2 linked regions of the Homo sapiens genome follow. The protein of the gene in region 2 binds, or shares a complex with, the protein of the main gene of each other region. Each region holds a gene or a part of one and is shown on either strand. Other genes may lie near its edges. A codon is read from its position in the direction of its gene.

The links. Proteins that work in one complex are often made in the same cells at the same time.
Region 1: the proteins of RAN (region 2) and SIRT2 are in contact, whole or in part, in a crystal structure (PDB 5FYQ), measured with the Homo sapiens proteins. Residues at the interface, in NP_006316.1 of Homo sapiens: Phe35 (codon at 3,114), Glu36 (codon at 3,117), Lys37 (codon at 3,120), Lys38 (codon at 3,123), Tyr39 (codon at 3,126), Val40 (codon at 3,129); in NP_036369.2 of Homo sapiens: Phe96, Arg97, Glu116, Phe119, Gln167 (codon at 530), Ile169, His187, Ile232, Val233, Phe234, Phe235, Gly236, Glu237, Ser238, Leu239, Phe244, Gln265, Val266, Gln267, Pro268.

Annotation. Positions count from the first base shown.
Region 1 is NC_000019.10:38,885,871-38,889,618, reverse strand, and holds part of SIRT2 (NAD-dependent protein deacetylase sirtuin-2), read left to right. Parts: intron 1-463; coding exon 464-532; intron 533-3,748. UniProt on the Homo sapiens protein: NAD-dependent protein deacetylase, which deacetylates internal lysines on histone and alpha-tubulin as well as many other proteins such as key transcription factors.
Region 2 is NC_000012.12:130,869,789-130,873,536, forward strand, and holds the start of RAN (GTP-binding nuclear protein Ran), read left to right. Parts: upstream 1-2,277; 5' UTR 2,278-2,338; intron 2,339-2,795; 5' UTR 2,796-2,805; coding exon 2,806-2,841; intron 2,842-3,047; coding exon 3,048-3,132; intron 3,133-3,214; coding exon 3,215-3,340; intron 3,341-3,748. UniProt on the Homo sapiens protein: GTPase involved in nucleocytoplasmic transport, participating both to the import and the export from the nucleus of proteins and RNAs. Switches between a cytoplasmic GDP- and a nuclear GTP-bound state by nucleotide exchange and GTP hydrolysis.

The DNA of each region.
Region 1 (3,748 bases), on a different chromosome or scaffold from region 2:
AGGCCCTGCAGACAAATATTATGTAGCCATTAAGTACATGGGTGCTGGGCCCAGACTGCCTCGGTTCAAGTCCTGGTTCCTCGTGTCTTCATCTTACGACCTTGAGCCTCCGATTTGCCTCCTGTGAAGTGAAGCTAATGGTACTGTCTGAAGAGGGCTGCTGCGAGGCTTAGCTGACTAATGATGCCGTTGAGAGCCCGGGACCCTGCAGCCGGGCTGCCTGGGTGTGAATCTCAGCTCTGCAGCTTACCCACCGTGTGACTTTGGCAACACAATCCCCTTCCCTGTCCTTCAGTTTCCTCATCTGTGATCTGGGGATAGCAGTGGTCTCTCCCCGACGCGGCTGCTGTGACGGTTCCCTGGGGGTAAAACAGTCACAGTGCCTAGAACAGTTCCTGGCATGCGGCAGTGGCCTGTGGCTGTTCCCTGCAGTCGTCAGCAGTGCTGTCGCTCTTCCCTGCAGCCAACCATCTGTCACTACTTCATGCGCCTGCTGAAGGACAAGGGGCTACTCCTGCGCTGCTACACGCAGGTAGGCGGATGCGAGCATCCTGGGAGGAGGATGGGCGGGTGGAACGGGCATGGTGTCCTCAGCAGAGGAGCAGAGCTGCGTGCCCAAGAGCTCAGGCGGGGACTCCAGCAATGCGGGGCCAGGGCTTGGCCTACTGCCTCCTTGCTGCATGACCTGCCGTGAGTCACGTCTTCTCTGCCTCAGTTTCCCCTTCCGTCAAACAGGGGCCAGAAAAGGTTTGCCCTCTCAGGTCTGCCCTCTCAGGTCTGCAGTGCGGTGGCAGTGACCTCCTCTCAGGGCCATCCCATGTGTGATGTGGAAGGAGCCTATGGCTGAAGGGACTCTGTGTGCACTATAGGCACCCCAGATTTCACATTGGTTATGAGCGAGTTTCCAAAGTGACTTCATCTAACAAAATCCATACACTATGACACGTGTCCAACAAGTAGATGTTGTGCCTTAAGGAAGGGGCACCTTTTTATAGTTTTTTGTGCTTTGCCCAATTATAAACATGTCTCGTACACGTCAGGTGCTTAGCCAAGGGCCTCTCCCTGGGGCATTCAAGCAAGGATGGCTCACATTGTTGGCTTCTGGTTTGGAGAGTCTCACACCCCTAACAGTAAAAAAATCTTGATGGGCTGGGCACAGTGGCTCACACCTGTAATCCCAGCACTTTGGGAGGCCAAAGCGAGAGATAGCTCGAGCCCAGGCGTTTGGGACCCGCCTGGGCAACATAGGGAGACCCTGTCTCTACAAGAAATACAAAAATTAGCTGGGCAGGGTGGCGTGTGCCTGTAGCCCCAGCTACTCAGGAGGCTGAGGTAGGGGGATTGCTTGAGTTCAGGAAGTCAAGACTGCAGTGAGCTATGATGGTGCCACTGTACTGTAGCCTGGGAGACCTGGTTTCAAAGAAACAAAAAACAAATCAAAACAACAACAAAATGTTGCTGCCTCTACCTGTTTTATGAATATGTATAGAAATGACATGATGCACTACAACAGTATTAATTCAAGCTCTAGATCACACCTCAGAACCCCGAATTATAAAACAGGTGGCCGGGCGCGGTGGCTCACGCCTGTAATCCCAGCACTTTGGGACACCGAGGTGGGCAGATCACGAGGTCAGGAGTTCAAGACCAGCCTGTCCAACATCATGAAATCTGGTCTCTACTAAAAATACAAAAATTAGCCAGGTGTGGTGGTGCCTGTAACCCCAGCTACTCGGGAGGCTGAGGCAGGAGAATCGCTTGAACCTGGGAGGCAGAGGTTGTAGTGAGTCAAGATTGTGCCACTGCACTCCAGCCTGGGTGACAGAGCAAGACTCCATCTCAATTTAAAAAAACAAACAAACAAACAAAAAAGAGTGGTAACATTGAAAATAAATAAGTGTTCTAGTGTTTTCTCCCTGTACCTGCAGTTTGGCACCTGCAGCCCCAAAAGCTACCGCCAGGGGGAGGAACAACTGGCTTTAAGTTCAGATTTCTCAGGTGGGCGAGGTGTTCCCACCTGGGGCTGGTAGGAGGCAGAGGGCAGCGGAGGCCTCCTTCTTCCAAGAGGAGGAGTCCTGTGATCCCCACACTTTGGGAGGCCAAAGTGGGAGATCGCTTGAGCCCATGAGTTCAAGACCAGCCTGGGCAACATAGGGAGACTCCGGGCTCAGAATAAACCTTCTGCCCAGAGAGTCACCATTATTCCAGGACGTGGCTCAGATATGATAACAGCTTGCTTGAAGCCAAGTGCTTTTTGTGGTTGATGTCATGACACTCACCCCAAGACCCCGCTGGCCCTTGTTTGTCAGCTTCTGTCAAAGTAAATGTTCACTGAGTTGATTCCCTACAGCAGGGAGGGAGATGATGGACAAGATGGAGACACCATATACTGAGCATATAAGATGGTCATGGGTCCCTGGAACACAGTTAAGCTGGAAGGGGAGTCAGAAACGGTGTATGTGTTCGGGAAAGGGGGTGCTGTTGTAAACCCCATCTCTACGAAAAATACAAAAATTAGCCAGGCGTGGTGGCACATGCCTGTAGTCCTAGTTACTCAGGAGGCTGAGGCATGAGAGTTGCTTGAACCTGGGAGGTGGAGGTTGCCCTGAGCTGAGATTGCCCCACTGCACTCCAGCCTGGGTGACAGAGAGAGACTCCGTCTCAAAAAAAGAAAAAAAATGACACATCACATACAAACTATTATATAAAGGCCAGGCGCGGTGGCTCACGTCTGTAATCCCAGCACTTTGGGAGGCCAAAGTCAACGTCAGGAGTTTAAGACCAGCCTGGCCAACATGGTGAAACCCTGTCTCTACTAAAAATACAAAAATTAGCTGGGTGTGGTGGTGCGTGCCTGTAATCCCAGCTACTCAGGATGCTGAGGCAGGAGAATCACTTAAACCTGGGAGGCAGAGGTTGCAGTGAGCCAAGATTCCGCCATTGCACTCCAACCTGGGCAACAGAGCAAGACTCCATCTCAAAAAAAAAAAAAAAAAAATTAGCCAGGCATGGTAGTGCACACCTGTAGTCCCAGCTACTTGGGAGCTTGAGAGAGGAGGATTGCTTGAGCCCAGGATTTCAAGGCTACAGTGAGCTATGATCAAGCTACTGTACTCCAGCCTGGACCAGTAGAGCAAAATCCTGTCAAAAGAAAAAAAAAAAAAAACCATGTTGTCAAAGAATAACAGAACGCAGAGGTATTTCGGTGGTTCTTTTCCACGCTGTTCAGTTATTTGCTTACTGTTCAGTTATTTGCAAATTGCTCACTCACATGTGAGGGAGTCAGTGGGTAGACTGAGTCAAGTACCAAAGGCAAAACCAAGATTTAGAATAGTGGGCAAGGGAGGAAAGTTACAGGGCGTGTGGGAACAGTGACAGTGACTCTTGTCTGTAGGCTTTGGAGATAAGGTGGTTGCTGGTAGGGAGCCCAGAAGGCAGTTAGAGCATTCTTTCTGCCCTTGAAGGGAAACAAACCCTTCCCGTTGTTTCTGGAGTCCCTGGGAAACGCTGTCAGTTTGGCCCTGGGCCACACATGCGAGCCATCTCTGCGTAACCTCTGCCAGTGTCCTCTGTCAGCACCTGTTTTAGCGGCATTCCTCACAGGCAAACAACAGCTGCTCCAAAGGGGGTGGTTGTTTTAAGAAAAATGAGCGCGCACAAATGTCTGTGCAGAAAAGAACATTCCCACCTGTTTAATATGGAAAGTCTCACTGTCTTAAAAGAAAACAGTGGCCGGGCGCAGTGGCTC
Region 2 (3,748 bases):
CTTCTCCGTATCATTCCAATTTTGGTATACGTGCTGCCAAAGTGACCACTCGATTACCTATTCCAATATAATGAAACCCTGTTTCTACTAAAAATAAAAATAAGATAAAAATAAAAAAAATAGCTGGGTGTTGTGGCGCATGCCTGTAATCCCAGCTACTCAGGAGGCTGAGGCAGGAGAATCACTTGAACCTGGGAGGCGGAAGTTGCAATGAGCCGAGATCGCACCACTGCACTCCAGCCTGAGCGAGAGTGAGGCTGTCTCAAAAAAAAAAAAAAAAGGAAATAGAACATTGCAGGTAAAGTTAAAGTCTTCTTTGACTCCTCTTCTCAGTTCCATCACACTCCTTTCTACCCTTTCTTGAAGCAATAACCATCAGGATATGGTATATAGATCCTTGCAGTCAATTAAAAAAAACAACAAAATACATATATCCAATAGCCAATATGCTTTTGTTTTATGTGTATTTGTAAAAAATATACATAAATGACATTATACTATATATATAATCCCTCTAGATAAAGTTACATATAGTGTTAGGTTTTATGTATTAATTTTTGAAAACAGGGTCTTGCTCTGTCTCCCAGGCTGGAGTGCAATGGTGAGATCATTGCCCATTGCAGCCTGTAACTCCTGGGTTTAAGGGATCCTCCTACCTCGGACTCCCAAAGTGCTGGGATTACAGGTGGCCTAGACTTTATAAAGCTGTTATCACCTCTTTCTTCTTTTCTCAACACTATCCTTTTGACATCTATCTAACCCTGTTGAAACAGATGACCGTCATTCCTTTTAAATGTTATACAGTATTAAATGTTGTGCACATGCGTGAGGCATGAGTTTAACTCTGGGGCCTCTCCCTAGAAATGGAAATCCGGGGTCACAAGCAATGGGCATTCCCGTTTTACTGTTAGATTCTGCTCTCCCGCCAGCAGCGTCTGAGAGGTGCTTGGGGTTCCCCTGAGGGTTCTGGGGGAGCTCGGACTTGCGTTCCCAGCAGGCCGGTTGTCGCCTGCTTTGTGCCTAATTTGCGTCACTGGGGTTCCTAGCGGACTCGCCTGCAAGTGTGCTCAGGACTGCAGGGAGGACTCTTCGGTCACTGCGGCTCTCTCCCCATGGTGGACTCTTCTGAGGCGCTTGACTGCGCTGATTTGGGCCTTTATCTGTCTGCATGTCGGCAGGGGCGCCCAGGAAGTCGGGTCCCTCTAGCTCAAGCTTGTTTGGGCTCTTACAGCTTCAGGCCAACAGGGGGCTGGGAAGCTGAGCACTTACTCATTCCGTCCCCGTTGGTAACTAGGGCTGGTAGACGCGTCCAGACTGCAAACAGTATTTCATCATTTTGTCTGTAGCATGCAGCGGCCAAAGCTGCCAACCTATGAAACGCTTTGAGAAGCCGGACGCTTTGGGAGGCCGAGGCGGGTGGATCCCCTGAGGCCAGCCTGGGAGACATAGTTAGATTCTGTCTCTCAAAAAAATTTTTAAAAAATTACCCCTGATGTGGTGCGCGCCTGTAGTCCCAGCTACTCGGGAGGCTGAGGCGGGAGGATCGCCCGAGCCTGAGAGTTCGAGACCAGCCTGGGCAACGTAGCGAGACTCCGTCTCTTAAAAAAAATAAGTAGCCGTTTTTCTGGGTGGGTGCATCCCTCTCTGGTTCCTCGCTCTCCAACTGGCCCTGGTCCTGGGGGCGTGAAGGCTACGATCTGGAGAGACAGAACAGCGGGCTGCCTCTGGAGGACGGGCCTAGACCCCATTCATTCATTCATTCGTTCTGTCACCCACCCGTCCTGCGCGCACGCGAGCCACCCTAAGCCCCAGGACCTCAAGAACCCCCACCCCACGGGGCACAGACAAGGACAGGCTGGCCAGCGCCTGGAAGCCGCGTGCCTGACCACGTCTGCCCGAGCGAGTACCGCCTCCCACCCGGGAGGCAGGAGAGCCGCGACCGTCGGGCCGCGCCCAACGTCTCCCGCTCAGGGGCGCGCCGCCTCGCTTTCAGCGCATGCGCGCCCGGGAGCCCGCCCGGGGCGTCGGCGCACGCGGTCCCCACCGGCCGGCTTGCGTACGCGCTCCCGGCTCGCCCTCCCACGCGGTCCACCGCGCCTCCCGCCCCACCCTAAGCGCAGCGACCGCCCGAGCGGCCGACCGAACCGCGTTGCGTGCGTGCGCGCACGCGCGGGCCACGTGGGCGGGCGCCGCGCCGTTGCCCCGCCCCTTGCAACCCCGCCCCGCGCCGGCCCCGCCCCTGCTCTCGCGCCGGCGTCGGCTGCGTCTCCGGCGTTTGAATTGCGCTTCCGCCATCTTTCCAGCCTCAGTCGGACGGGCGCGGAGACGCTTCTGGAAGGTATCGCGACCCGGCGGGCCCGGCACGGCCGGGCGGGGACAGGGGTGGCGGCGGCGGGATAGGGGTCGGAGCCGGGGCCAGGGCCGGGGCGGGTGGCGGACCCAGGGGCAGCGGGCGGCTGAGTAGGTGGGTGGTGCGGGCCCGGCCGGGCCGGGGCAGGAGACGGGCGTGGGGTCGGCGCTAGCCCCCGCGAACCCCCGTTTCATCCTCCGCTCTCATCCCCGTCCCGGTCCCAGTCCCGTTCCCATCCCTACACCTCCGGCCGCCGTTCCCCGGGCCCCGCCGCCCCGGATGCCGGCCCCGCCCGCCGCCTTCCCGCTCCCAGGCCTGGCCGCCATGGCGCCGCGGGCGGGAGGCCTTTGTGGGGCGGGCACGTGGGGCGCTGGGGGCGCGGGAGCGGGGCCGCCATGGGCTGCGGGGCCGCGCGAGCGCTCGCCTCCGTCCTCTGCCTCCGCAGGAACGCCGCGATGGCTGCGCAGGGAGAGCCCCAGGTCCAGTTCAAAGTAGGTAACCCTGCGGGGCGGGAGGCGGCCGAGCCCGACCGCGTGCGACTCGCGGGTCCCTCCTCCTGGGGCCACGATGGCTGTAATGGGGCCCCGCATCCACATTCTTTGTTTTAAGTGAGCCTGTGGTGGTTAAAGTTCCGTGACTCTGGGATCTTGAGAGGTGAAGTGTTTAGGGTTTACTTCCAAAATGTGTTTTTCAACAGCTTGTATTGGTTGGTGATGGTGGTACTGGAAAAACGACCTTCGTGAAACGTCATTTGACTGGTGAATTTGAGAAGAAGTATGTAGGTATGTGCTGGAAAACCTTGCTTGTGGAAATATGTGAGAAATGGGTAAGTTCATCCACTCAATCGCATCGTTTCCGTTTCAGCCACCTTGGGTGTTGAGGTTCATCCCCTAGTGTTCCACACCAACAGAGGACCTATTAAGTTCAATGTATGGGACACAGCCGGCCAGGAGAAATTCGGTGGACTGAGAGATGGCTATTATATCCAAGGTAGGCATTTGTAACTTGCTGAACGGTTTTTGAGAGGTTTTGTGTACTTCAGTCTTCAAGGTTATAGAAAATCAGGTCTGTTCCAACAAATAGTGTCATTTTTGGGTTAAAAAAAGACAAGTGGACTTCGGGGAGTTGACCACCATTTTGGTGGCAGAGAAAATTTTATTAAAGTTGTGTCATTTGCATGCTGTGTCATGCTAGGCATGCTTTAGAAAAAACTATGACTTACACTGGGACTTATAAGTCATATTTAAAACAATAATAGGCTGTTAACAGCAGTTTCAGTATTTGGAAACTTAGGTTCATGTATGTATTTTGGTGTGGTGATCAATGAATGTTTTTACTGTATTAGAAAACAATAAACACCAGATACTAGACCAGAGGAGATAGGAGATCTTAACAAGT